7 linked regions of the Homo sapiens genome follow. The protein of the gene in region 4 purifies or fractionates together with the protein of the main gene of each other region. This does not show direct contact. Each region holds a gene or a part of one and is shown on either strand. Other genes may lie near its edges.

Region 1 (4,054 bases), on a different chromosome or scaffold from region 4:
CCGCTGCCCCTGTCTGGAATTCCCTGCCTCCTCAACATCAGCAACCACTAACATCATATGACAATTATTTATCACGTTTTGGGTACTGCCCCCCTCCAATGAATGAAGCCCTGCTCTCTAAATATGGGAACGTGTTCGCCATTTTGTTCCCAGAACCAGGAACGTGGCCTGGTGCAAAGCACGGGCTCAGCAAATGCTTGTTTTTTTTTTTGTTTTTATTTTGTTCAGTTTTGTTTGAACAAGGTCTTGTTGTCATGCAGACTAGAGTGCAGTGGTGTGATAATGGCTCACTGCAGCCTTGATCTCCCAGGCTCAACCTGCCTCAACCCCAAGTAGCTGGGACTACAGGTGCACACAAACCACCAAGCCTGGCTTTTTTTTTTTTTTTTTTTTTTTGAGACGGAGTCGCCCAGGCTGGAGTGCAGTGGCGTGATCTTGGCTCACTGCAACCTCTGCCTCCCGTGTTCAAGCAATTTTCCTGCCTCAGCCTCCTTAGTAGCTGGGATTACAGGCACGCGCCACCACGCCTGGGTAATTTTGTATTTTTAATAGAGACGGGGTTTCTCCATGTTGGCTGGTCTTGAACTCCTGACCTCAAGTGATCCACCCACCTTGGCCTCCCAAAGTGCTGGGATTACAGGCATGAGCCACTGCACCAGGGCCCCTTCTAGATGTTTCTTTGTTCCACCCATAACCTTGCCCCAGGATCACTGCCAAGGCCCTCTTAGCTCTGTCTCCAGCCCAGCATGCCCTCCTGAGCCCCAGCTTGGTGTCTACCTGCTTCCCGCTCACCCCAGCCCCAGATGTCACTCCCCAGGCACTCCTCTTTCTCCTTATAACAGTGCCTCATCTCCTCAGGCTCCTGGTCCCCGCCTCACTCCCTGTCTCCCTCAGACCTCCATCTGGGCCCCATCGGATTGTACAGGCCTCTCCTGAGACCCCTGCGTGGCTCCACCATCACCTCTCCTGAACCTCAGTGGAGGCTGCTCTATCCAGAGCCACTAATCAAACCCTGAAACCCTGAAACGTGCCACCACCTTCAATTGCTGACCCTCTCCAATCCAGGCACAGCTGCCACCAGGGAGGCCTGTGAAGCCCATGCATTTGACCACGTGACCAGAGTCCTCCCCACTACATCTTGGGGGGTCTGAATTCAGATGGGACTTCTGATCCTGGCATCCTGGTCCTGGGTCCCAGGCAGATACTGGCCCTCATCGTTCCCCGAAAGTACGGGCTCTGTCTTGCCTCTTGGCCTCTGCATGTGCGGTTCCCTTACCTGCTTTTGCACCCAAAACTCAGCTTCAACAGAGCCTTCCCCAAATGCTCCCTGCCTGAGGCACCACTGATCCCTAAAGGACCTCCTGTGACCATCTGACGATGTGGTGAGGGTGCTGGAGGACAGCCTTGGGGCAACGGCCCCTGGGTCCTAGCCCACAGCCACCATGTACCGGCTGGGTATCCCGGGCCATCCCCTAACCTCCTGTAACCTCAGTTTCCTCATCTGTCAAACAGTCAACAATGCTGACTGCACAAGCTCATATTGGAAGAAACTAAGGAGATGATTAGAGTAAAATGTCCCGAGCCATGTGGGCCCTCAGCACGCACCCTTCCTGTACTGGCCAGGGTCATTACCATCTGTGCAAGAGAACAATCTCTCTCTCTCTCTGGGGACCACTCTGGGGCCTCAAAAAGGAAATGTCCTTCAAATGCTTAGTTTAATTTCTGGCCCAGAGTACACGCTCAATAACTGGGAGTGGTTGTTACTACATGGTCACAGCACCCGGCTGTGCCACTGACGGGAGATGGAACTTTGGCCATGTCACTGAAACCTTTCCCAGCCTTGGTCTTCCCCTCTGTGAAATGGAGTCTCACAGGATCGCCGTGAGAACTGAATGACTAACTCTATGGAAAATGCTTCCAAAACAGCCCTCAGTAGGTGTGTCCCACTGTTACCATCTCCGTCCTTGTCACTGCCACCTGAATGGTCTGCTGACTCATTCCTGTGCCTTATCTGAGGCTGTGTCCCCAGGTTCTAAGGCAGGGCCAGGCAGAGCTGGCCCCTACTCTAATACCCCAGGGGACTGACACAGCCAGCCTGAGCCTCGGATTCCCCTATATGTATAAGGGGTCAAGAAGGCCTACGTGGTCGAGCGTGGTGGCTCACTCCTGTAATCCCAACACTTTGGGAGGCCGAAGCGGGTGGATCACCTGAGGTCAGGAGTTTGAAACCAGCCTGGCCAACATGGTGAAACCCCGTCTCTCCTAAGAACACAAAAATTAGCCAGGCGTGGTGGCAGGCGCCTGCAATCCCAGCTACTCCAGAGGCTGAGGCAGAATCGCTTGAACCCGAGGCAGAAGTTGTAGTGAGCTGAGATCGCCCCACTGCACTCCAGCCTGGGCGACAGAGCATGACCCTGTCTGAAAAAAAAAAAAAAAAAAAAAAAAAGCTATACCTCATGAGATAAACAGCAGCTGCAGGCTGGGCACAGTGACCCATGCCTATAATCCTAGCACTTTGGGAGGCCGAGGTGGGAGGATCACTTGAGCTCAGGAATTTGAGACCAGCCTAGGCAACATAGTGAGATTCCATCTCTTAAAAAAAAAAAGTTGCTGGGTGTGGTGGCTCATGCCTGTAATCCCAACACTTTGGGAGGCCAGGCGGGCAGATCATGAGGTCAGGAGTTCGGGACCAGCCTGGCCAACATGGTGAAACCCCATCTCTACTTAAAAAATACAAAAATTAGCCGGGCATGGTGGCGCGCACCTGTAGTCCCAGCTACTCGGGAGGCTGAGGCAGGAGAATTGCTTGAACCTGGGAGGTGGAGGTTACAGTGAGCCGAGATGGCACCACTGCACTCCTGTCTGGGCAACAGAGTGAGACTCCGTCTTAAAAAAAAAAAAAAAAAAAAAAAAAGCAGCTGTGGCCTCTCCAACTCCCTTTCTCCACGATGGGCCTGTGTCACCCTGGAGCCTGCCCACCACCCTGCAATCCGCTGCTGGGCTGCCACCAGTCTCCCCTGTGTCCTCTGAACAACTGCCAGGGAGGCCGCAGCTAAAAAAGGCCTCTTGGAGTTGGCGGGGGCGGCAGCCTGCCCAGCCTGGGCTTTACACCTCCTATCGGGGAGGGGCTGTAGCAGGCTGGGCAGGGGAGAAGCCACCCCAGCAAGCAGGGCCCACAGATGTCACTACCCTCCTGCCTTACAGTTAGGGAAACTGAGGCTCACAGAATCTCAATGTCATACAACTCATTAGAAGAAACCACTAACAGCAGCTGTCTCTGGGCAGGAGAGCCGGCGAGCTGGGGCTGAGAAAAGGGATTCATTTGTCCGCTTCTGGAAACTTTGAAATTTTTTTTTTTAAGAGACAAGGTCTTAGGCCAGGCTTGGTGGCTCACACCTACAATCCCAGCACTTTGTGAGGCTGAGGCAGGTGGATTGCCTGAGCTCAGCAGTTTGAGACCAGCCTGGGCAACATGGTGAAACCCTGTCTCTACCAAAAAGTACAAAAATCAACCAGGCATGGTGGTGTGTACCTGTGGTCCCAGCTACTCAGGAGGCAGAAGTAGGAGGATCACTTGAGCCCGGAAGGTGGAAGTTGCAGTGAGCTGAGATGGCGCCACTGCCATCTCAGGGTGACAAAGCAAGGCCCTGTCTCGAAAAAAAAAAGAGAGAGACAAGGTCTTGCTATGTTGCTCAGGCTGGACTTGAACTTCTGGGCTCAAATGATCCTTCTGCCTCAGTCTCCTGAGTAGCTAGGACTATAGGCATGTGCCACCACATGTGGCTACAGATTTTTTTTTTTTTAACCATGAACAGAAATTATTTAAATGATGATGATGATAATAGCCACTGCCCCAAAAGGATTACAAATATTAAATGAATAAGGTAAGCCTTACAACAACCTTATGGGGTGGACATCATTCAGATTCTCAGGTAGGGAAACTGAGGCACAGAGCGATCAAACAGCTCCCTGGCAGTCACGCAGCACGTGAGTGATACAGACAGAGCTGAGATTTGAACCTAGTCAGGCCTGTGCTCTGAACGACAGCAATCTC
Region 2 (4,657 bases), on a different chromosome or scaffold from region 4:
AGCTCAGGATGCCATGTAGGCTTTAATCATCTGACTTCAACTTTTAGTCTCGTATTTTGTGGGACTCCTGTACGTAATTAAATATCGTTTTTCTCCCATGGACAATGTTCAGTTACCCGAAAAAAATGGGAGATTCTTAAGTACCAATAAAGAATGAAAATCACAAGTGGGTAGTCTGGCAAAGAAAAGTTGATGAGAGATTCTACTGTTAACGTTGGGTTAATATGACTCGAATAATTTCCGTATGCTAGCTCAATGCTTTACATGCACATCCTGTTTACCCTGCAGTAATCTGTTAATTCGTCTTATGTGAATTTAACTCTTAGTCCTAATAAGGTACCTGGAAGGATGGAGGGAAGCCATTTTTGGTTCCCCTACACCACTGTTCTATCCGGTCTCTTCACTTCTGCTGAGCACATCCCGGGTGTACATACACACACACACACACACATATGTGTGTGTATATATATGTATATGTGTGTGTGTGTGTATATATATATATATTTTAAGTGGCCCACCCCTAACTTCTCAACTCCCACAGAACGTTCACTCGCCAGGTAAACAGAAGCCTAATTATCCCCAATTTGCAGGTGAGCACACGAGGACAAGAACCCGATCCAGGACCGGATACATCGCAGTTGGAAAGGCTAGAACACAGATGCCCCCTCACTATATGCGCCGCGACCATCTGGATGCAGAGGCGAACTAAGGACTGGGTGGGAATGGAAGCGAGGCCCTTCGAGAAGAGGAAGGGGTGCAGGCCAAGCCGGGCAACTTAGGAAACGCAAAGTAGAGGCGCATGCCACCTTGCTAACTCTCGACTCTTCCAGTCTCGCCCCAGTCGTTTCTGTGGTTTTCTCTAAATGCCCCAGCCGACCGCACCAGCTACTCTCCCCGTGTCCCAGTACCAGCTGGTCCGGTTCTCTTGGTATCCCGCTCTCTCCTGGAAAAATGGAGGCGCGAATCCTGCCCAATCTACCGCTCCGAGCGCACGTTCACTGCGCACGCTGAAAGGGCGCCAAGCCGACCGCTGCGCTATCGATCGGTCCCACTCTCTCTTGCTTTTCTCGCCATCTTACTTACTGGCACGTTCAAAGGTTAGTTCACCTCCTTGGACTTTATCTCCAATGCGTCAAGCTTGACGTCAAGGGGCTGTTGCTTCACCGATAAATGGCCGACCGCGGAGAGCACCCTGGGGCTGGGACTGCCACAGGTCTGGCTGGCCGTTGGCTCCACCACTTCCGGGTTCTTAGGGAGCAAGTGCGCCTGCGCGCGGTGTGCGCCCTTAAACGCGACTCAAGGCGTCGGGTTTGTTGTCAACCAATCACAAGGCAGCCTCGCTCGAGCGCAGGCCAATCGGCTTTCTAGCTAGAGGGTTTAACTCCTATTTAAAAAGAAGAACCTTTGAATTCTAACGGCTGAGCTCTTGGAAGACTTGGGTCCTTGGGTCGCAGGTGGGAGCCGACGGGTGGGTAGACCGTGGGGGATATCTCAGTGGCGGACGAGGACGGCGGGGACAAGGGGCGGCTGGTCGGAGTGGCGGAGCGTCAAGTCCCCTGTCGGTTCCTCCGTCCCTGAGTGTCCTTGGCGCTGCCTTGTGCCCGCCCAGCGCCTTTGCATCCGCTCCTGGGCACCGAGGCGCCCTGTAGGATACTGCTTGTTACTTATTACAGCTAGAGGTACAAGGGGTTTGTTGAGTGGTGTTGACATGCGCGGGAGGGGTGGGTGGGCTTCAGATTGGATTTTGTCCTCCGAGATCACCTGGGTAAGAAAAGCACAGAAGGTCTCTGCTGTGTTGGAGTTCACGTTCTAGTGGGTGGGGAGACAGACGGTAAGCGTACGGAGAACTTGCAGCTGGGGTGGGTGTTACAGAGGAAAAGCAGGAGTGCGGTTTAACGGGGGCCGCTTTAGATAGAATAGCCTAAGAAGGCCCTTGTCCTGGCTGGATGAGTGGGTGAATTGATGAATGAGAACCTCCTTGCAGAGGCCTTCCCGGTCCGTACTTCTCAGACCGTAGACCTTGGAGCAGTTGTACCGGGATAACTTGCAGTGCTTGTTAAACATATAGCTCCACCGAGAGCCCGGTAAATCAGAATCTCTGAGGGGTAGGACCCAGGTGTCTAGTTATTAACAAACTCTCCAGATGATTCTTAGGTTTCATTGAGAACTAGGGATGCAGACCGGTGCATACAAATCGTCTGGGGACGTTAAAATGCAGAATCTGTTTTTTTAGACCTGGGGTTAGGCCTCAGAGTCTCCATTTCTAAGAACCATCCGGCTGAGGTAGACGTAGCCACTGTCCTTAACTCTCGTAATGTCTCTTCCTCTTCCGTAACCTTCCTTGTCCCTTGAATTAAACGTTTTTCAGCAACCTACTCAGTTCGTCCTTCCCTTCATCTCTGCAGACATGCACAGGTCTGAGGGAGGAAGGAATAAACCGTATAAACCTCCTGCGCTATTAGCCTAACAGCTTTTCTATTCAAAATAGTAGGACTTCTGGTTTGAACTGAATGGATCCTGTGAAAGTCATCTGGTTCTTCAATCTGGTTGCAGATTAGAGTCACCTGAAGGGCAGTCTCCTTGGCGTTGTCTCCAGAATTCTGGATTAGAATCTTATTCCATTCTGCTTGTTATTCAATTTCCCTAGAAAGAAAGGTAGAATAAATTGGAGCAAATGCCTGTAGCTTCTGTCAGAAGAATGTTGAATAAATGTTGTTAGGCCTATGTGATCTCATTAGACTGCTACTTAGAATTGTAAGGGAAGTAAAGCATTAGAGCATGTGTGAAATTAAATATTTGATTAACACAAGTGTGCATTTCCTTGTTGCTGTTTATCAACTTTTACTTACCCACTGTTTTTTTATAAGGGCTGCAGCCTGTAGTCTGGGCCTGGCTTCATCATGGAATTATTTGCTTAATTGTAAAATGGTAATCTTAATTTTTTTTTTTGAGACAGGGTCTCACTCCATTGCCCAGGCCAGAGTGCGGGGATATTTGATAAGAAACTTCAGTGAAGGCCGGGCGCGGTGGCTCATGCCCGTAATCCCAGCATTTTCGGAGGCCGAGGTGGGTGGATCACCTGAGGTCGGGAGTTCCAGACCAGCCCTACCAACATAGAGAAACCCTGTCTCTACTAAAAATACAAAATCAGCTGGGCGTGGTGGTGCATGTCTGTAATCCCAGCTACTCTGGAGGCTGAGGCAGGAGAATTGCTTGAACCCAGGAGGTGGAGGTTGCGGGTGAGCCGAGATTGCGCCATTGCACTCCAGCCTGGGCAACAAGAGCAAACTCTATCTCAAAAAAAAAAAAAAAGAAACCTCAGTGAAATGAAAGACTGAACTACACACCTGGGGGAAAAGCGTAATAAAGGGAGCAAGAAGTGCAAATGCTTATGGCAGGGGACTTATTTGCAGAAAGAAAGCCTTGTGTGGCTGGTACACGGTTGACAAGAAGAGGAGATGAAGTCAGAGAGGTAGTTAGGGTCCATGTTCTGTGAGACTTCAATAGGCCTGTCTATGCAGGTTAGGAGTTTGCATTGTTTTGATTGAGTTGGGAGCCATGGGGGTCTTCTGAACTGAGGATCAACACATCTGATTTGTTAATGAGATTGCCGGCCTCAGTGTTAAGAATGGACCATGACAGGGTAAGGGTGGAAGTGGGGAGGCCATTGGGAGGCTGTTGGAAAAAACTCAAGGGAGAGAGAATAATGGTTTGACCAGGTGGTAGTAGTAGAGGTGGTGAGCAGTGATCTTGAAGGCAGAGCCTACAGAATATGCTGGTGGATTAAATGAAGGGTTTGCGAGAGAGAACCTCGTAAAGGGTTATTATGCCAAGGCTTTTGGCCTGAGCAACTGACAGGATGGGTTTGCCATGCACTGAGATGAGGATGTCTAGAGACTAGATTTGGGGAGGTGAGAGTGGGGAGAGATTAGGACTTCTGTTTGGGACATGTTAGAATGGAGATGCCGCTCAGATAATCAGGTGCAGATGTTGCATAGAAAGTAGAAAATGTAGATCAAGAGTTCAGGGGAGAGGTCTGGGCTGAAGAATGAATATTTGGGAGTCCTCAGCCTGTAGATGGTACTGAAAGCAAAGAGACTGGATGTACTCGGCTAGGGAGTAATTGGAGATGGAGAAGTCATTCTAGGCCTGAGCTCAGGGCACACCCATGAACAGGGAGGTGAGAAGTGGAGAAGGGAAGAGGTTCAGTTTTGGATATGTTAGGATTGAGGTGCCTGGCAGACATTTTTGGGAGATCCTGGGCAAATCCTTGGATATCCAAGTCTGACAGTCCAAGGAGAGACTAGGGCAGAAGACGCACTTTGAGTGGTCCTCATGAAGGCATTTAGAGCTGAGGCACTGGGTGATATGGATCCCTGGTGAAGGTGTAGATGGAGAAGTGGAGGGTCCAGGGACTCGTTCTTGAGTCACCCCAGACCCTTGATCTGGCAAAAATGAGACTGACCCAGCAAGGAGGGAAAGACAGGACGACTAGGTGGTAGATAAACCTGGAAGTGAAGTGAAGAAAAAAGTGTAAGATGTGATCAACCTTGTCAGATTCTGCTGAGGATGCAAGTACGGGGAAGGTGGAATTGACCCTTGGGTTTGGCAGCAGTAGGTGTCAGCCATGAGCCTGACAATGTGGTGGAGACAAAAA
Region 3 (4,054 bases), on a different chromosome or scaffold from region 4:
CAACATGGTGAAACCCTGTCTCTACTAAAAATACAAAAATTAGCCGGGTGTGGTGGTGGGCGCCTGTAATCCCAGCTACTTGGGCAGTTGGGGCAGGAGAGTTGCTTGAACCCCGGAGGCAGAGGTTTCAGTGAGCCATCATGCCACTGTACTCTAGCCTGGTTGACAGAGCAAGACTCCATCTCAAAGAAATAAATAAATAAAATAAAAATAAAATGTCACGCTATGAAGCACTGAAATATTCATTTTTCACATAATGCCTCACTTAGTATTTATACCATCATCAAAAGACCAAATAAGTAGAATACTGGAAAAAATACAAAATCAAGTGGTATTTTTATAATCAAAGCAATATGATATGCCTTATTTAAAAAAGAAAAAAAAAAAGGCCGGGTGCGCTGCCTCACGCCTGTAATCCCAGCACTTTGGGAGGCAAAGGCAGGGGATCACGAGGTCAGGAGATCGAGACCATCCTGGCTAACACGGTGAAACCCCGTCTCTACTAAAAATACAAAAAATTAGCCAGGCGTGGTGGCGGGTGCCTGTAGTCCCAGCTACTCCGGAGGCTGAGGCAGGAGAATGGCATGAACCTGGGAGGCAGAGCTTGCAGTGAGCTGAGATCGCGCCACTGTACTCCAGCCTGGGTGACAGAGCAAGACTCCGTCGCAAAACAAACAAACCAACAAACAAAAAAACAAACTCAAGATGCTCAATGATTTAAGAAATAATACTAATGGGCCGTGCGCAATGGCTCATGCCTGTAATCCCAGCACTTTGGGAAGCCGAGGCGGGCATATCACCTGAGGTCAGGAGTTTGAGACCAGCCTGACCAACATGGAGAAACCCTGTCTCTACTACTAAAAATACAAAATTAGCCAGGCGTGGTGGTGGGCATCTATAATCCCAGCTACTTGGGAGGCTGAGGTAGGAGAATCACTTGAACCCGGGAGGCGGAGGTTGCGGTGAGCCAAGATTGCGCCATTCTACTCTAGCCTGGGCAACAACAACAACAAAAAAAAAAAAAAAAAAAAAAAGAAAAAGAAAAAAAAGGAAATCATAATAATGGCTGCAAAACATGTTAAAAAACCAAACAAACAGAATAGGCCAGGCACAGTGGCTCATGCCTGTCTGTAATCCCAGCACTTTGGGGAGGCTGAGGTGGGCAGATCACATGAATCCAGGAGTTCAACACCAGCCTGGCCTACGTGACGAAATGCCATTTCTACAAAAAACACAAAAATTAGCTGGGTATGGTGCGCAGACCTGTAATCTCAGCTACTCGAGAGGCTGAGGCAATTGTTTGAACCCGGGAGGCAGAGGTTGCAGAGATGGCACCACTGTACTCCAGCCTGGGTGATGGAGCGAGACTCTGTCTGGCTCACCCCTGTAATCCCAGCAGAGGTGGGAGCATCACTTGAGCCCATGAGGCGGAGGTTGTAGTGAGCCAAGATTATGCCACTGCATTCCAGCCTGGGCGACAGAGTAAGACCCTCTCTCAGAAACAAACAAAAACACCAAAACCCTCAGAATACATTTAACAAGGTAAAAAGCCTATATGAAGAAAAAACTCAAATATATTAAAGGAAAAAATGCAAAAACATACCACGATCTTGGATTGGAAGATTGAGTGATTCTAAAGGCTATGGGAAAATATAAATTGCCAAGAATACCAGATATTACAATTTAAATTGGATATAATCAGCAGTGTAGCAACTACAAAGGGAAAAACAGCAAGTTTACAGTGGAGAAAACTGGCAGATAATACCCTAGTCAAGTTCTTTGAGTTTAGCTTTGCCTACAATGGGACACACATATCTTCTAATATGATGCACTAAGGACTTATGACTTTAAAAATGCACATCCTGAATCTAACCTTGAGGGAACATCAGACAAACCCAAACTGAGGGACATTCCTATAAAACAGGACTTCAAAAATGTCAAGGTCATAAAAAGACAAAGCCTGAAGAACTGAACAGTTCAATGAAATCCAAGATTCCAGATTGGATCTTGAAACAGGAAAAAAAAAAAAAAAATAGGACAATTGACAAAATTTGCATATGGTATATAGATAAATGTACCAGTGTTTAATTTCCTGATTATGATTAGTGTACTGAAACGATGTAAGATTGATATTCCCAGCCAGGCACAGTGGCTGATGCCTATAATCCCCAGCACTTTGGGAGGCCAAGATGGGCGGATTGCTTGAGCCCAGGAATTCGAGACCAGCTTGGGCAATATGGCAAAAACCCATCTCTACAAAATAATACAAAAATGAGCCAGGCACAGTGGTACACACCTGTAGTCCCAACTACTGGGGAGGCTGAGGTGGGAGGATCCCTTGAGCCCAGGAGGCAGAGGTTGCAGTGAGCAGAGATCACACAACTGTGCTCCAGGCTGGGTGACAGAGTGAGACCCTGTCTCAGAAAAAAAAAAAAAAGATAAATATTCCCATTCTTGGGAAATACGCACTGAAATATTTAGAGATAAAAGTGCTTACTGTCTCCAACTTATGGTTTCAAAAAAAAAACTATCTGTAGCAAGATAGAGAATGATAAAGCAAATGGGGCAAAATGTTAAGAGTCAATGAATCTGGGTAGAGGTTATGTGGGAGTGTTGGGTATTGTTCTTGCAGCCTTTTTAAAGTTTGAAATTATATCAAAATAATGTTACCGAAAGACAGTATAACCCAAGCAGATGGATCAGAGGATTAAAATGGAAAATCACAGAGATCTGAGAATATATGGAGAAATCAATAGGTAAGAAAAATAATTCAATAAATGCTGCTATAAAAATTAATAATCCATTGGGAAAGGAAGTCATATTCCTACAGACTTTGTATGATACATATGCAAAATACATTTCAGAGGATTTAAACACCTCATTGTTAAGAAAAATACTGAAAAGTTAAGACAGATAATCAGACTGGTAAAACTACAAAAATATACCATAAATCACTAAGAAAAAAGAATTACACAACATAATATAAGTAGATTATCAGTAGGAAGTCTTAGCACGACACATATACTCAGTATCTCATTGTTGCTTTAAAAAAATTGGAAATAACCTACTGGTGTATTTGAAGGGGAATGGTTGAATAAATATGGTACATCTATAATAATGAATACCACGCAGCCATTAAGAACAACGTAAAGTCTTTGGTTTGTTCACAGCCACATTTTGGTACCTGAAATAATGCCTAGCACATTTTTGAATGAATTAATGAAACAGGAGGCAGATTTTTAATCATTCAGCTGAGAAAGATCACCAAATAATATTGTTAAAAGAAAAAACAAAAAGCAAGATTTAGAACAATATGTATGGAATAATCCTATTAGAACACTGCACGTTTGTACCAAAATTTAAGGACACTGATATTTATAAAGCAGTTAGCAAACAGCCAGCAGCCATCAAGAAAAAAAAAAAAAGTAGTTGTTGATACAGCTAGTTCTGTAGCAAAGCCAGGGTCAGATGAACCCAGAGTTCCTGATTTAAAGCTCAGAGCTCATTCTATCATGCCACTTACTGCACCACCAACTTGACATTAGCGGAGGTGACAGCATCTCAGACCCTACCCAGAATAGACTTCATTACAGCTTCATCTATTATAGTAAAACAACAGTGTCAAATATGTCAACAAGGAGTAGTCGTCATAGAAAATGGAGAAGCAAAAGGGATCACTGTGCACTTACCTAGTCCTGGCTCAAGGGAACATGAGTAAGTAGCATTCGTATTTTATGCTGGTGGCTGGGGGGTAATATTCCAAACTGGAACTTAAATGAAACATGCTCTTCATCAAGATGAAGGAACCACAGATTCCTTATCACTTAATTTTTTTTTTTTTTTTTTGAGAAAGTCTTGCTCTGTCGCCCATGCTGAAGTGCAGTGACACGATCTCAGCTCACTGCAACCTCCGCCTCCTGGGTTTAAGCGATTCTTCTGGGTTTAAGCTAGGACTACAGGCGCACGCCACCACACCCAGCTAATTTTTGTATTTCTAGTAGAGACAGGGTTTCACCTTATTGGCCAGGCTGGTCTCAAACTCCTGACCTCATGC
Region 4 (4,054 bases):
AGCTTTGAATCTCTGTGTAGTATTTCTTTTGGAACAGTTGTTAGAAATGGGAGGTTTGAGGCCAGGCGCGGTGGCTCACGCCTGTAATCCCAGCACTTTGGGAGGCCAAGGCGGGCGGTTCACGAGGTCGGGATATTGAGACCATCCTGGCTAACACAGTGAAACCTGTCTCTACTAAAAATACAAAAAATTAGCCAGGCGTGATGGCGGGTGCCAGTAATCCCAGCTACTCAGGAGGCTGAGGCAGGAGAATGGCGTGAACCCGGGAGGCGGAGCTTGCAGTGAGCGGAGATCGTGCCACTGCACTCCAGCCTGGGCGACAGAGCGAGACTCCATCTCAAAAAAATAATAATAAAAAGAAATGGGAGGTTTGAGAATGTGGGATCATTGTTAGAGTGCCCTCCAGGTGGCTGTGCCCTGTCCGCTCCTGCCCTCATTGGTGAGAGTGTCTTTCTCCCACAGCTCCAGTCTCTTTTGCTAATGTGTTTTTGATAAATACCTTGTGGTACATGAAACGACTGAAGTGTTTTCCAAATAGAATTTCTCCCCTCTTTTTAGCACCCAACTGGTCAGCTAACTTTGATGTCCCAATGGAAACAACCCACGGTGCTCCATTGGATTCTGTGGGATCTGATGTCTGGAGCACAGAGGAGCCGATGCCAACTAAAGAGACGGGCTGGGCTTCTTTTTCAGAGTTCACGTCTTCCCTGAGGTGAGCGAACATGTGCTGTCTCTACACCCTTCCACGGGGGACCTGGGAATGGTCAGGTGTTTGCTGTTAACGTGTGTTCTTCACCTTGACTGACTTCCAAGTTGAATATACTGCCCTGAAAAAGATTAAACATCAGCATACTAACACAGCTCTGTGTTGTAAGAAGAACAATCACCATCTTCCTTTCCTTTCCTCCTGGATTAATTGGAAATGGGAGTAGTTCTTGAACAAAGTAGCTTGTGAGGATGCGGTCCCAGGGAGTTAGCAGGACGCAGCAGAAGATGCATCTCCGTGAGCTTTTCTGGCTTCATAGAGCTGTCAGGACAGAATTGAGGAGAAGAGGAATGAGGTGAAGCCAAGAAATCCTGACAGGCACAGCACCTCTGTGTGGGGTGTGGCAGGCAAACAAAATGGATCTTGAATTCAGTAGATAATATGAACTTACAGTTCACTTGCAGCTAGTCCAGTGCTGTCAATTAAGGGCTCCCAATCATTGGTAACTCGGAAGATAGGAAGACAAGCTGTTTTGGGCTGACAGTTAGTGTCTTAGACAAACCAAAGAATAGGCTGAAACCCATGTTGCTTTGTAGTAACCATAGTAATAGCATTAAGTTACTACTCAGAGGTACAAGTGAGATTTGTGAAAAATGTCTCCAAAATAATGAGTTATTTCGTCTACCCCGCTTTTCAGTACAGGACATACATTTCCGCCTACTCCTTTTTTTGGTCTGTTTATAACCCGAGGATAAGAGCCTTTGGTTACTTGAGGGTGTGATTGAAGCAGCTTGCTTCTCTTTACCCTCTGTGTGCACGTCTCTGAGTTTGTGGGAATGAGGGATAAAAGAGGAAGTGTAATGATCTCCCTCACCCCTACCCCTTACTGCTCAGGCATTTGGTGTTTTTTTACTATGTTTCCACAGTTCCAACAACAAATATCATTAAGAGGGCCAGTCTCTCCCAGGCAGTGTGGCTGAAAATAAGTAAAGGTTTTTGTAAAACCAGTCAACCTGATAAATACCGTTGCCATTGCACAATGTACGTCTTTGCTGTTCAAGCTCTGGGAGCCTCCTAGTGACTATGGTGGGATGAGAAGTTGGGACATGATGAGCCTGTCTAGAATGCTTTACAAAGTCCCTGTCTTACTGCCTTGCTGGCTTAACAGAACATTTGCCTGCCCGCACTCATGTCCTTCTTCAAACAGCTACTGGCACTTAGATCCATGTGTCACTGGAGTTTGTAACCCAGTGACTCTTACACAGATGCTAATGTCTCCTAACAAAAACTTACTTGTAAAGGCTTATTGTGAATCTTGGGGTAACTGAGGACCATTCCCTGCTGCTAATATCTGAATTTTCTCTTTTTTGAAAGCACAAAAGATTCTTTAAGGAGTAATTCTCCAGTGGAAATGGAAACCAGCACTGAACCCATGGACCCTCTGACTCCCAGTGCGGCTGCCCTGGCAGTGCAGCCAGAAGGTGCGTGCAGAGAGGCCTGGGTACACGCCAGGGTCACGTGGCTGCTTTGTCAAACCAGACCTGATTCTCAGGCTCAGGGGCTAGTGGAGCCCGGGAGTGAGATGGTGGGTCTGATGTCCACAGGGCAGCTGATGAAAGAAATTGTGCCTGTCCTTCTAGAACCACAGCATGCTGACTCTGGAAAGAGTAAGGGCTCTAAGTTACCAGGCATGCAGTGTGCAGATTAGGAAACTGAGGTCTAGAGGGAAGAAGGCCTAAGCCCATAGTACCCAGGGTGAATAAAACTGGAATTAGACGTGTGCAGCCAAGCCTGTGTGTAGTTGTCCCTTGGAGTTTGCTTTGCTCAAGCATGTAGGTGTATCTGGGTTTGTTTAGAGCTATGGGGCTGGTTATTTTCACTTCGCCATTGTAAGCAGATTGAATAGTCCTGGGAATCTCTAAAGTTCCAGTGGGTTTTCCTATTACTCTACCTAGTCAAATGTGTTCCTTGCACGGCCCTGAACTGTTTTCACCTTGATGGACGGGGCTTTGGGAGGAGGGGGATGCTAGCAAAGGGAGTGTGATGGGAACCAAAAGGATGTGGAGGGCACGAATCATGAGGTGGGCTTAAGGAGTGAGTTCTTAGAAAATGAAATGAGGTTTTGGTAGAGGGTGTGAGAACCCTCCTTCCCAGGGGCAAGGGAAAGGAATAAAACCAATAACTAATGCTGGTTTCATCATCCTCCTGAACATTTGATACAGATTCCCGCATTTGACTCCTCAGTGGTTCTGTAAGTGGGTGCACTGATCCCCTTTCCTGGATGAGGAAACTCAGGTTATAGATGAGGTTCCTTGTCCAAGTAGTCTACAGCTAGGAAGTGGTGATGTCGATGTTTGAATCCAGGAAGCCTCACCTCAGCCAGGCTCATCACCTATGTTGGCTTCCCATTAGAGAACAAAGAAACGATCCACCAGCAACACCACAAGAAAGTAATTTTTAAAACAAAGCAAAGCAAATAGAGCCCAACTGAGGAAAACAAGTGAGTAGAGGGTAGAGTGTGTAACTGCCTGCTCTGCCCCACACTGGAACAGTTAGGAGCACAAGTGTCTGCTGGGAGAAGCTGGGTATGGAGGTGGACGCTGAGCTGGGAGGGATGTAGGCGACTTGCTAGTCTCTAGTAAAGAAAACCCATGAAACCCCTCTTTAGTGGGCATCTTTAAGAAGTCTCTCCCCATCAAGAATGTGGCCCAGACAACAGCAGGCAGAAGCCATCTCACTCTTTTTTTTCTTCAAGCAGTAGATGTCACGTTGGGTAGATGGGTTTGTACAGTGGTGGGGTGCCAGTTCCTTTTCGGGCTTGCTGTGTGTGACCATCAGCTGTGTTCTTTTCAGCGGCAGGCAGTGTGGCCATGGAAGCCAGCTCTGACGGAGAGGAGGATGCAGAAAGTACAGACAAGGTAACTGAGACAGTGATGAATGGCGGCATGAAGGAAACGCTCAGCCTCACTGTAGATGCCAAGACAGAGACTGCGGTCTTCAAAAGGTAACCAGGGGTGAGATCCTGCTGGTAGCTTCAGGTTATTGGGAGGATGGTGGGGCAGAAACCTCAAACATTAAAATTTTTAATTTGATTCAAATGAATGTTCAGATACTAGCTTGATGTCTTTCTGTTGTCTCCATTAAACACAATAAATCTTAATGAAGAGATGGAGAGTTTAGGCCCCTAAGTGCCTTTTCCCCCATAAATGTGTTCAGAAGACTGTATTTTACATCTAGCAGTTTGATAGAACTATGAGAATTGATAAATCTTTAATCACAATAGAAATTGGCTTGTGTAACAGGCTACAGAGCATGGCCCATGAAAACCGGTTTCAGGTCGACTGGTTT
Region 5 (4,054 bases), on a different chromosome or scaffold from region 4:
CCACCACGCCCAGTTGGATTCTTCACTTTAAAAAATAGCGGGGGTGGGTGCAGTTTGAAAACCACCAGACTAAATCATGACTAAGGTTGTGTGGAGATACAAAATACCATGACTCAAACACAATACTAACATTAAAATTAAGAGAACAGCACGTGGGATTTAATTGTAAGCAATAAAACTTACTGCAGGTCCTAGATTAAAGGACGGATTCAACCAACCAACAGGATGAAATCGATGTGGCAAAATTTGAAGAGACTAAGCATGATGTTTGAAGAGTTTTCTAATAAACTAATAATTTTCTAGTATTTTTTTCTAAGCAAATAGATTTCTATATTCTTTTAAACTACAAAATCAGTATAAATAAGATTTAAAAAATGTGTATCTTCATGGGGCAAAATCATACACACAAATATTTCACTTTTGTATTAGTTTTCATCTAACCACTTATTTTCTACTATTTAATAAGGTACAAAATTTTGGCCAGGGGCGGTGGCTCACACCTGTAATCTCAGCACTTTGGGAGGCTGAGGTGGGTGGATCATGAGGTCAGGAGATCGAGACCATCCTGGCTAACACGGTGAAACCCCATCTCTACTAAATATACAAATAATTAGCCTGGCATGGTGGCGGGTGCCTGTAATCCCAGCTACTCGGGAGGCTGAGACAGGAGAATGGCGTGAACCCAGGAGGCAGAGTTTGCAGTGAGCAGAGATCACGCCACTGCACTCCAGCCTGGGTGACAGAGCGAGACTCCGTCTCAAAAAAAAAAAAAAAAAAAAAAAAAAGAGTACATAATTTTACATTCTGATTTTTCTCTTACCATATCATCATTTCACTACCTTTTAATTGCTGCATCAAGTTGCTAAATCATAACTCTTCTTATATAATTCATATAACTCTTGTTATACTGCTGTACATGGGTTTATAATTTTTACTTTTACAGATAACATTTTGTATATAAAATAGCTGTTTTTTTCTTCTGCAGATTTAAGATATACTCCCAGGAAAAGAATTACTGGTTTAGCTGGAGTGTTTTGCTTTTTTTTTTCCCTAAATAGACCTAACAGATTATACTGGTACTGACTTCTTCAGTATAAGCTGTAGAGTCTGCCAATCCTCCCAACTCAGCTTCCTGAGTAGCTAGGACTACAGGCGTGTGCCACCAGGCCCAGCTAATTTTCTTTTATTTCTTTTTGTAGAGACAGGGGATTCCCTATGTTGCCCAGGCTGGTCTTGAATTCCTGGGCTCTAACGATTCATCTGCCTTGGCCTCCCAAAGTGCTGGACTACAGGCATGAGCCAGGGTGCCCAGCCAGGTTTATTATCTATCTTCTCAGTTCCTTTTCAAGTTGGCACTGACAAGAGGAAGAAATTAAGATTTGAAGAGGTAGAGAAGGGAACTTACATGGTCTGGTTCCAGCTGGCAGTGTCGAGCCAAGGCGTGAAGCAGCCTCTGAATGTAAGCTTTGAAGATGCCATGAATAACTTCATCGTTAGTTTTGTACAAATGTTCCCCCAGTCGGTACCAAAAGTTAAATGAAATTTCTACTACCTGTTAGGTTAAAAGAGATGATTTATTTGAATGGGAAAGGAATAGAATAAGAAGACATTTTATTATCACCACGACCATATAGGAAGAAAGATATATTTTTAAATAATATGAGTGGAGCCAGTTAAGAAGTCACCTTTTCTCTAGCAGATTTACTATTATCTCCCCAAATTGTCTTCCCACGTTAGGCCCAAATCTCCATTTAGAATGACTGGCTTTACATTCCATTTAGTCCTGAGGTAATGCCTCCAAAAGTATACTGAATTTTGAATTTAGAGAAAACAATAACAGACATGGAAGTCTTTATTTTTATTTATTTTTTAGAGACGGAGTTTCATTCTGTTGCCCCAGCTAGAGTGCAGTGGAATGAACACAGTTCACTGCTGCCTCAAACTCCTGAGCTCAAGTGATCCTCCTGCCTCAGCCTCCCAAGTAGCTGGGACTACAGGTACACACCACCAAGCTCAGCTAATTTTTTTTTTTTTTTTTTTTTTTAGTAGAAACAGGGCCTTGCCATCTTGCTCAGGATGGTTTTGAACTCCTGCCCTCAAGTAATCCTCCCACCTAGGTCTCCCAAAGTGCTGGGACTACAGGCATGAGCCACCACATAGTTTTATTTTATTTAAAACAAATTTCAGCCAGGCGCGAAACACCATCTCTAAAAAAATACAAAAATTAGCCAGGCATGTAGGTGGCACATGCCTGTATTCCCAGCTACTCAGGAGGCTGAGGTTGGAGGATCACCTGAGCCCAGGAGGCTGAGGCTACAGTGAGCTGTGATTGCACCACAGCATTCCAGCCTAGGCAACAGAGTGAGACCCTGTCTCAAAAGATATATATATTTTCTTTAGAGACAGGGTCGCCTAGGCTGGAGCACAGTGGCACAATCATGGCTCACTGCAGCCTTGAACTTCTGGGCTCAAGCAATCCTTCCACACAGCCTCCTGAGTAGCTAGGAGGACTACAGGCGCTTGCCACCATGTCTGGCTAATTTTTAAAATTTTCTGTAGCGACAGGGTCTTGCTCTGCCATCTAGGCTGGAGTACAGTGGTGTAATCATGGCTCACTGCAGCCTCAAACTCCTGGGCTCAAGTGATCCTCCCATTCAGCCTCCTGAGTAGCTGGGATGAAAGGTGTGCACCACCACACCCAGCTAATTTTTTAAATTTTCTGTAGAGACAAGGTCTTGCTTTGTTGCCCAGGCTGGTCTCGAACTCATGGGCTCAAGCAATCCTCCCACCTCAGCCTCCAAAAGTGTTAAGAGGTATGAACCTCATTAGAGGTATAAACCACTGTGCCCAGCCAGAAGTCTTTTTATTTTTATTTATTTATTTTTTTTGAGATGGAGTCTTGCTCTGTCACCCAGGCTGGAGTACAGTGGTGTGATCTTGGCTCACTGCAACTTCCACCTCCTGGGTTCAAGTGATTCTCCTGCCTCAGCCTCCTGAGTAGCTGCGATTACAGGTGCGCACCATCACCCCAGCTAATTTTTGTATTTTTAGTAAAGATGGGGTTTCATCATGTTGGTCAGGCTGGTCTTGAACTCCTGACCTTATGATCTGCCCACCTCGGCCTCCCAAGGTGCTGACAGGCGTGAGCCACTGCGCCCGGCCAGAAGTCTTTTTTAAAGTACTTTTCTGAAAATTCTGAAATCATTTCATTGAATGTTTGAGATTAGAACATTTCTTACTTGGCAAACCATCTGTAACTCCTGAACATAACTGATTCAGCTTCATGTCACTTTTATTCACCTGTTTCCTTGAGTGTGAGAGAAAGGGAGAAAAAGCCTGGGATTTTACTCGTAGCCTCTTTTCCATATGGTACTGTTTAAAGGAGTGATAACTGCGTGGTGTTACATTCTCCCAGAAATGTTTTGGGTTCCATTCAAATCTAGGTATCCTCGTAACATTATGTAAAACAAATAAACGTTGTCTTGTATGTGATAACAGAAAACAGGCCGAGAGTCACAGGACCACTGTGCCTAAGGCACAGTAAGAGGATCCCTACCATCCTTTTCCCATCAAGGATCCAAAACAGAGCTATTTAAAACAATGCCCAACTTGGGAGCACTTCTTTCTCACTTTTTTTTTTTTTTTTGAGACGGAGTTTCGCTCGTCTCCCAGGCTGGAGTGCAGTGGCCCGATCTCAGCTCACTACAACCTCTGCCTCCCAGGTTCAAGCAATTCTCCTGCCTCAGCCTCCCAAGTAGCTGGGATATTACAGGTGTGAGCCACCACGCCTGACTAATTTTTATATTTTTAGTGGAGACAGGGTTTCACCATGTTGGCCAGGCTGGTCTCAAACTCCTGACCTCAGGTGATCTGCCCACCTCGGCCTCCCAAAATGCTGGGATTACAGGTGTGAGCCACCAACCCCGACCCTTTCTCATTTCTTATACTATAAAGAGGTAAAACTTCTCAAATAAATGAGATTTTAAAAAATCTAGCAAACCTCGGTAAGTAGGATGTCAAGGATTCTGAATGACAGAGACCCTTAAGTCCTTTC
Region 6 (4,054 bases), on a different chromosome or scaffold from region 4:
CTAGACTTCCCCTTGTGTAAAAATACACATATAAACTTTAAAAACAAAATAAAATGTAACCATTTCCCGCTACTGTGAAATCTGCTTTCCTTTCTCTCACTTAATATATTGTGAAAGTTGGTCTGGGAGCAGTGGCTCAGCTGTAATCCTAGCACTTTGGGAGGCTGAGTGGGAGGATTGTCTGAACCCAAGAGTTCAAGATGGGCCTGCACAACAAAGCAAGACCCATCTCTACAAAAAATTTTAAAATCAGCCAGGCATGGTGCCATGCACCTGTATTCCCAGCTACTTGGGAGGCTGAGGGAGAAGGATTGCTTGGGCCTAGGAGTCTGAGGCTACAGTAAGATAAGATTGCATCATCACACATCAGCCCAGGCAACAGAATGACACCTTGTCTCCAAAAACAATGAAAGAAAAGAAAGGAGGAAGCGGGGAAGGAAGAAAAAGAAGGGAAGGAAGGGAGGAAGGGAGGGAGGGAGGGAGGGAGGGAGGGAGGGAGGGAGGGAGGGAGGGAGGGAGACATAAGTTAGTAAAACTGAGGATATCTGGGATGAGAACCTGCCTGTGTGTACAACTCTGGATGGACACACGCACGCGCGCGCACACACACACAGAGTTATCCTAAGGCACTTAGTTCAGCATCTTTATTTTCCATGAGTGCATAATAATATTCGATTATTTTGCTGTCCACAGTCTAAGCAGTCTCCTACAGTAGGATATTAAGTTATCCTAACACTATTGGCAATACTGCAATAACATTTGTCTTCATCTTTGAATCTTTTTCTGTTTCTATAGGATCAATAAGGACATAAATTTTGCTAGGTGAAAAGGTATGAATTTAAGATTTTTGATACATGGTTCCAAATTGTCTTTAGGAAAAGTTGTGTCAATTAACCTTCCCTAAAAAAAAAGTTATCTTTGCCAGGCACGGTGGCTCATGCCTGTAATCCCAGCACTTTGGGAGGCCGAGGTCAGGAGTTTGAGACTAGCTTGGCCAACATGGTGGAACCCTGTCTCTACTAAAATTACAAAAATTAGCTGGGCGTGGTGGTGTGCGCCTGTAATCCCAGCTACTTGGGAGGCTGAGGCAGGAGGATCACTTGAACCCGGGGAATGGAGGTGGCTGTGAGCTGAGACTATGCCCCTGTACCCCAGCCTGGGTGACAGAGTAAGACCCTGTCTCCAAAAAAAAAAAAAAAAAAGTATCTTTATCTTACACATACGTATTTCATAGCACTGTGGGGAAGATTAAATGAAGTAATACCTAAAAGCTCTTTAAGAAGTACTTGAAACATAAGAACGTTCAATGTGGGCTATAACGATAGTTTTTTTGTTTTGTTTTGTTTTTTCTTCCCCGAGACAGAGTCTTGCTCTGTCGCCCAGGCTGGAGTACAGCCATGCAATCTTGGCTCACTGCAAGCTCCACCTCCCAGGTTCACACCATTCTCTTGCCTCAGCCTCCCGAGTAGCTGGGACTACAGGTGCCCGCCACCATGCCCGGCTAATTTTTTGTATTTTTAGTAGAGACGGGGTTTCACAGTGTTAGCCAGGATGGTCTCGATCTCCTGACCTCATGATCCACCCGCCTTGGCCTCCCAAAGTGCTGGGATTACAGGTGTGAGCCACCGCGCCCGGCCCAACAATAGTTATTATTTGGAAATTTCAAATTGGGACTTTCTGGACTGGCTAATAAACTGGGTGGGTCTAGTTAGAGACAAAGCTAAATGACAGCACATGCATGCTATCCCTTTGTTCCTTCCAGCGGTACCAACACACCAGTAAGATCTTTCCAAAAATCTCTCTCCTTCATGTTTCCTAAGCTGGCTATACAACAAAAGAAAAGGCCCATTTGACAAATACATCAACCCCACTGCTCTCATAAAACACACACCCTCTCCTGGACATACCATCACACTTAACAATGACTGCAAGAGAAAAACACAAGAAACTGACTTTATTTATGAGTAGTTATTTATTTATGAGTAGTTGTTTGAGATACTGACTACTAATAAAATCAGATTTTCAGGATCTAGTACGGACTTCATTATGCTATTTGATAAATCACTAGCTGCCAAAGTTTTTGAGGGATAACAATAACTTTATCTGCAGGGATGAGGGGAAGAAATTAGATGTATTCAAAAGAATGTTTTTAATAATAAACAGAGGAAAGTCAGGGTTGGTTGTTGTTGTTTCTCCAGTAACCTGCAGTTAATAAACTCAGCTGGAGCCTGTATTAAATTTCAGATAATTCAACCTACATCAAAAAATATGGGCCATTTTACATATAATGCTCTAAGCAATCTGTTGGGCCCAAAGGGCAAAAGATACACCCATATTATTCTAATTAGAACAAATTTAAATACAGAAGCTAAAGAGAAACATTTAAGAGCACAGTAGCTGTCCCAAGAAATCTATGATGAAAAGATCTAAGTTTTTAGATCTTTGAGCATTTGTTACTTCTTCTATTTTACCAAAACAACATAAATATATAGTTTTTAAAGTTTATAACAAAAATCAGTAGTTCACTGCCTCAACCCTCCCACCCGTTTCCTACTCTTGCAGCTGTTTCTTACATTTTAGCTTTTGCTATCTACTTTCTAACAGGAAGATGCCTTCTACAACTCCCTCACTACACTCATGCTTCTCCCAATATGGAAAATCAATATTCACAGCTTACATTATTAACATGATAATGTAAATACTGCTCACAGCTGAACCAAATAGTATTCTATGACTACATTTCATTTCTCATTCAAGTTCTTAGTAGTTGGGTTTTTTTTTAACCACCAAGTTAATGGCTGTTTCTCTAAGCAATACAATGCTTTTAACACACAAAAAGTAAGCTTAAGTCACAAGCAGAAGGCCAGGCATGGGTGAGGTGAATCTGAAAGAATTATTGGTAACAGCATTTACAGCTAGGTTGTATTGACTTAAGAAGTTTGTTCCACATGTCATCATATTCCAGGGTTTTCAGGCTATAAAAGATAAGGAGTGTCTACTGATATAGGAAAAGGACACAATGCTGGAGAATATTTCTAAGTTCACAGACAGATGATTCAAGCAGGCAATTCATATAGCTGCAGGAGATTCTTACTATTTTCTTGTTCTGAAGGTAAGAAAAGAAAGTGTTGAACACTTTAAGCTAATTTTTAGCTTGCTTGCTGAAAAGATGCCCATCTAAACGGATTTCCCAAAATAGTGATTCAAGCAGAAAATCTCTGGCTTCCGAATCTTGTGTGGCATGAATAATTCCCACCTAAATTGGATGGTTTATAAATTTGACTCTCATGTTTTGACCTCTAAAGCAAGACATTTGTGTAGCTTTCTAGGAGGAGTTTCCAAATTTATAAACTTTGCTTTTCCTCAGAATTATCGCTGCCAATTCACATACTGGAAATGCACATGGCTCCTCTTCCTAGAGTTCTCTCTCCAACTGTTTTCTTCAGTCATTAATAGAATCGTCTGAGGACTTTTTTCAAAGAAAGAGTGCCTTAATTCTGAACCATGAAAAATCCTGACGGACTACTTTAATTTTTCTTTTAAGCTAGGCATATATATTCTACAATAATTTGAAAGTTTCTGAGAATATAAATTTTTTTCAGAAACAATTATAGTGCAAATCACCAATATTATTTTTTAAGCATTTAAAAAATATCAGACACAGTTCCTCCACCACCCAAATACCTATTTCTCTCCAAAACAGCTATCCCCAAATGTAAATAGATGCACAAAGCATCAGCCCACATTGAGATTAATAGCTTTTTAAATATATATTCATTATTTAGTTTATGTTGACTCAAAGACATTTCTTGAAGCAAGTAAAATGTTAAGTAACATCAGTTCAAAATACATTTCACCCAGCTTTACCTATAATGAATAGTGTTACTAGGTAAATAAGAATGATTTCAATTTTAACAAAATGAAGTAGGAACAGTCTAGGAAAAATGTTCTGAGTTGGTAATATTTAGTAACACTGTTATTATTGACATTTCTCAGAAAATAAAACTACACAGATACAGTTTGATTGTATAACATGAGCATTTCACTTCACTAT
Region 7 (4,054 bases), on a different chromosome or scaffold from region 4:
GCAGCTGCGCCTGGCACAGATGTGAGGTAAAGCGGAGGGGGCGGCTGTCGCAGCCAGCCGGGTGTGGACCAAATATACTTGCAGCCCACACACCTGCTGTCAGCCCAGTCACCAGAGCCCTGCTGGCGAGCAGTGTGAGTCACGAGCCGGAGGCTGCCAGGGAGTGCCCGGCCCCCACCCTGAGGGCTGCCCGGCCCCCCAGAGTCCCTGAAGGTCTGGGGTCCTCAGGACTGAAGCCTGACAGAAAATCCCGAGGGGGTGCGGAGGGCTGGGAGGGAGCCTGGAGGGGTGCTGGGCTCATTCCTGGTTTCCTGCGTAGGAAGCAGGCACGGTAGAGACTTTGCCTCCGCTCTGGGGCCTGAGCTTGAGATCACAGGCAGAGGAGAGAGGAGCCCCCACCCATCCACTCTAAAGCACTGGTTCTGCAGGGTGCAGTTAGGAAGTGGGAACAATGGAGTTCCGCAGGTCAGCAGCAGCCCACGGGCCCTCCAGGTCTCCTAGGAAGGACTCTGTGCACACTGTGAATGTGTGGAAGTGGGGTGTCAGCACCTCAATCAGGGCCACCTGGCTGAAGCCCCCCGGGTGAGGTGAGGCCAAGAGATGAGGTGCAGACAGGAGACATGGGGTGCATGGGGGCCATGACAGGAGACAAGACTGGGGAGGGCGGACGGGGAAAGAGAAAGCGATCTGCTAACCTCTAAGTCCTGCACCACGGGAACCAGCAGGGAAGGTGACATGCAGCAACCAAACACAGGGAGACGGAAGTTACCACCACCGAAGCCACGCCACAGCCCCCCACCGACCAGCACTGCCAGCAGGACCCAGGAGGGGCAGTGTCTGGAGGGCCATGCCTGCCAGAGACTCAGGGGTGTGGGGGAGAAGCAGAGTTTGGGGCTGTCCGGGGCCCTGGAACAGCGGTGCAGGCCTCCAGGACAACTGTGTGCCCCAGGGAAGCCATTCTCTAACAGGTCTACCTCAAAGGCTGGGAGGTTCAGGCTCCTGGGAACCACTGTCCTCCCAGCTGGACATGCAGGCACTCACAGGACAGGGCCAGGGCCTGTGCCCAGCAATGTCACTTCCCAGTCAGGGGTGCCAAACCAACTGCACCACCTTACAGGGCCCAATTTTACACAATCTTCTAGTCCAACTCACTGTTCCGAGACCCAATTGGTGTCTTATCTGGGTAACCTGACGGGGTTGATTTGGAAGCTTTCTAGAAAGGTCCTTCTCAGGGACCAAACTGATTCTAGTTCAAGCCAGGCTTGAAGGGACGCTTGGACCGCGTCCTCCACCAGGGCCACCCCCTGGCATGGGACGAAGGGGAGGCTCCAAGGCTGCAGGGCGGGTGCCGGGGCTCTCACCGTGCAGCTGGGGTTGCCCGGCTGGATCCGCAGCTCCGCCAGCACCCAGATGCCGTTGGTCAGCTTCAGGGACTGGTAGAGCATGTCCTGGCCCTCCACGTTCCTCTTGGCGACAGTGAAGATGTTGCTGCTCTGCAGCTTGCTGCTCGCAGCCTCTGTGGGGTCACATGGCCGTGAGAGGCCCCAGTCAGCGCGGGGGCCTGGGTACAGGCGAGGGGCTGGGGTCGGGGGCTCGGAGTCCTCACCTGCATTGAGGGGGCAGTCTCTGATCTGGAACTGGGCCTCATTCTCATTGGGAATATCCTTCCATGTGGCCAGGAACATCTGCCGGTCTGCGGGGTGAGCAGGGTGGGGATGAGAGGCGAGCCCCTCATAAACCTGTGGGCCCTCTGTAGCTCAGCAGGAAATGGGTCTGGCCTTTACTGTGCCACGTGAAAGCTGACAACAGGCACTAGCTGCCGCACAGCCCTCCTGCTTCCCTAAGCACACCCTCCGCTCTGTGAGGGAGGCCCCAGTGCCGCTTCCAAATGACCCTGGCTTCCTGCCTCCAGGCCTTGGATCTCCCCTCCCCACCCCCACACGCCTTCCTCCTCCTCGGTGAGCAGCCTGCTCGTTAGTCACAGCCTCCCATGCAGGCCTTCTGTGGCAAGCAAGAGATGACATGGGCCAAGGGCTCCACGCAGCCAGGGGCAGGGTGCAGGCCGTCTGTGTGCTGTGATCAACACCCTTCTTGGGGGTTCCAGAAAGGGCACAGAGGAGGGGGTTACCAGGTGTGGGGCATGACCTGGGCTCGCTGCAGCCCATGGGACAAGGCTGAGGAGCGAGCAGGAGAGCCTGGGAGTGGGGTGAGTTCCATGTGGCACAGCCCACCTGCCAGACCAGAACTGGCCACTAAGGCCGGGGGGGTCCTGGGTATACCCCTCACTCCAGGCCCTGCAGGGAAGCAGCAACTCCCCGACTCCATTTACGGGCAAGGCAGTCCATCTGGACCTTGGTAAAGGCACCACCTTGGCCAGGTTCCCAAGCCACAGCCCCATTTCAGGCACCCCAGCGGGCTCCCTCATGACTCACCCATCTTCCCGTCCTCCACAAAGAGGATGTGCAGTGGGTACAAGGTGCTGAAGTAGAAGACATCGATGTTGTTCTTCACGGCCACCTAGGCACAAGGGGGTCCCCAGTCAGTCTCTGGGGCTTGACGCCACCTCTGAGGCCCCAGGAAGAGTGTCACTGAGCAGATTCTCTCCCAGGGCCTTCCCTGGTAAACACACCCCTTCGTTCCCCAACCTGGGCCTCCCCAACACATCTGCAGCTAAGAGCATGACTCCGCAGACACGACCTTCTACTGACCCCAGTGGGGCCCGGCTGGTAGGTGAGTAAGGACTGGGGTGCCTGCCCTGCCCGGAACCCACCTGGAGGTTGTTCAGAGGCTCCATCTTCATGACCGAGCCCACCGTGCTGAGAGGCAGGGAGATCTCCACTGTCTGGTTGGGGCTGAGTGGCGCGTGGACCTGGAGGGGGGCGGCGGGGGCCAGGCCAAAGCTGGGGAGAGAGAAGCCCCACAGGGATGGCAGGGGGAGTAGGTGCTGATGCGGGACAGGTGAGCTCCTCCGACTCGGGAGCTGGGGCTGTGGTTGGCAGGGAGCCTCTCACCGTGCCAGCCTTCCCATGTTCTGGACCCTGGACAGAAGGATGGGCTGTGGGTCCCCTCCCCCAGATGGCCATCTGGACAGAAAGAAAGAGCCCCAGGCCAATTGCTCTGCTCTGCCCCAGCCTGGCTGCAGGCCTGAAGCCCAGCTCTGTTCCTCTCCTCTGGGCCAGGCACTGGTGGGCCCAGGTAGGCAGGCCTTGCCCTGTCCTGCCCTCAAGGAGCTCTGTCTAATGCCAGGGGCCTGGAGTATAAGCTGCTTCTACCTTGAAAACTCTGGGACCACCCAAGTCTCTGCTGCCAATCCTCAACTCCCAGAAGGGATCTGACCATCCCAAGCAAGACGCTAGATTTTACTCTCTTGGCCAGAACTTGCCAGGTCACACAGTGGCCACAGAGAGATTCAGGAAAGCTCTGCTTCTCTGCAAAGCAGCACAGTGACAAATTAGGAAGATCCTCATGGGTGTGAGACACGCCAGCAGCAGGCTCTTGGAAGGTAAGTCACAGGGCATGGGACTGGGGGCACAAACCGAGGGCTCGGTATACCTGGGCTGCGGATTCAATATTATACCTGCTCCTAGCCTCATAAAAACAGAGCCAGGTACACCTCTTCCTATCCTCTAGATGAGGACACCGTCTCAGGGAGGAGCAGGCCTGTGTCAGACCCCATAGGGTGAGGGCGCTGCTGAGAATCAGAGTTTGGGCTGTCTGACCCCAGCCTGTGCTCTGCCCAAGAAGCCATCAGCCTGCCTGGGACACAGAGGGAGACCATTTGGGGAACCCCAGGTCCGCTTGGTGGCTCAGCACACTAGGCTTTCCTGGGAGCTCCACTACTGCTCGCTATGTGAGCTGTCCAAGGAGCCCAGGTGTCATTACCTACTAAAAAGGGGTGATGGCAGTGACTTTGCTGGGCCATCAAGTGGCTCAAGTGAGACAATACTCCCAAAGCCGGTGCCACAGGGCCTGGGTGCCCAGGAAGCATTCAGCACACAGTAAGTTTGCTAGAGGCAACCATTGGAACCACCTCTCGGAGCCTGGTGCACTTCTG

What was found.
Region 1: the proteins of PPP6R3 (region 4) and CDC37 fractionate together in Homo sapiens (co-fractionation; one large-scale study listed by BioGRID). This does not show direct contact.
Region 2: the proteins of PPP6R3 (region 4) and AURKA purify together in Homo sapiens (affinity purification with mass spectrometry; 8 studies listed by BioGRID and IntAct, with this or other methods). This does not show direct contact.
Region 3: the proteins of PPP6R3 (region 4) and LIN28A purify together in Homo sapiens (co-immunoprecipitation; one large-scale study listed by IntAct). This does not show direct contact.
Region 5: the proteins of PPP6R3 (region 4) and TNPO3 fractionate together in Homo sapiens (co-fractionation; one large-scale study listed by BioGRID). This does not show direct contact.
Region 6: the proteins of PPP6R3 (region 4) and ENAH fractionate together in Homo sapiens (co-fractionation; one large-scale study listed by BioGRID). This does not show direct contact.
Region 7: the proteins of PPP6R3 (region 4) and AP1B1 purify together in Homo sapiens (affinity purification with mass spectrometry, with the first as the bait; one large-scale study listed by BioGRID). This does not show direct contact.

The regions. Positions count from the first base shown.
Region 1 is NC_000019.10:10,397,043-10,401,096, forward strand, and holds part of CDC37 (hsp90 co-chaperone Cdc37), read right to left. Parts: intron 1-4,054. UniProt on the Homo sapiens protein: Co-chaperone that binds to numerous kinases and promotes their interaction with the Hsp90 complex, resulting in stabilization and promotion of their activity. Inhibits HSP90AA1 ATPase activity.
Region 2 is NC_000020.11:56,388,965-56,393,621, reverse strand, and holds the start of AURKA (aurora kinase A), read left to right. Parts: upstream 1-1,406; 5' UTR 1,407-1,454; exon of another isoform or gene 1,455-1,831; intron 1,832-2,956; exon of another isoform or gene 2,957-3,066; intron 3,067-4,657. UniProt on the Homo sapiens protein: Mitotic serine/threonine kinase that contributes to the regulation of cell cycle progression.
Region 3 is NC_000001.11:26,420,394-26,424,447, reverse strand, and holds part of LIN28A (protein lin-28 homolog A), read right to left. Parts: intron 1-4,054. UniProt on the Homo sapiens protein: RNA-binding protein that inhibits processing of pre-let-7 miRNAs and regulates translation of mRNAs that control developmental timing, pluripotency and metabolism.
Region 4 is NC_000011.10:68,599,783-68,603,836, forward strand, and holds part of PPP6R3 (serine/threonine-protein phosphatase 6 regulatory subunit 3), read left to right. Parts: intron 1-558; coding exon 559-712; intron 713-2,080; coding exon 2,081-2,187; intron 2,188-3,559; coding exon 3,560-3,710; intron 3,711-4,054.
Region 5 is NC_000007.14:128,995,984-129,000,037, forward strand, and holds part of TNPO3 (transportin-3), read right to left. Parts: intron 3,308-4,054; exon of another isoform or gene 3,240-3,307; intron 1,553-3,239; coding exon 1,406-1,552; intron 1-1,405. UniProt on the Homo sapiens protein: Importin, which transports target proteins into the nucleus. Specifically mediates the nuclear import of splicing factor serine/arginine (SR) proteins, such as RBM4, SFRS1 and SFRS2, by recognizing phosphorylated SR domains.
Region 6 is NC_000001.11:225,520,458-225,524,511, forward strand, and holds part of ENAH (protein enabled homolog), read right to left. Parts: intron 1-4,054. UniProt on the Homo sapiens protein: Ena/VASP proteins are actin-associated proteins involved in a range of processes dependent on cytoskeleton remodeling and cell polarity such as axon guidance and lamellipodial and filopodial dynamics in migrating cells.
Region 7 is NC_000022.11:29,329,017-29,333,070, forward strand, and holds part of AP1B1 (AP-1 complex subunit beta-1), read right to left. Parts: intron 2,901-4,054; coding exon 2,771-2,900; intron 2,518-2,770; coding exon 2,433-2,517; intron 1,694-2,432; coding exon 1,607-1,693; intron 1,517-1,606; coding exon 1,362-1,516; intron 705-1,361; coding exon 696-704; intron 1-695. UniProt on the Homo sapiens protein: Subunit of clathrin-associated adaptor protein complex 1 that plays a role in protein sorting in the late-Golgi/trans-Golgi network (TGN) and/or endosomes.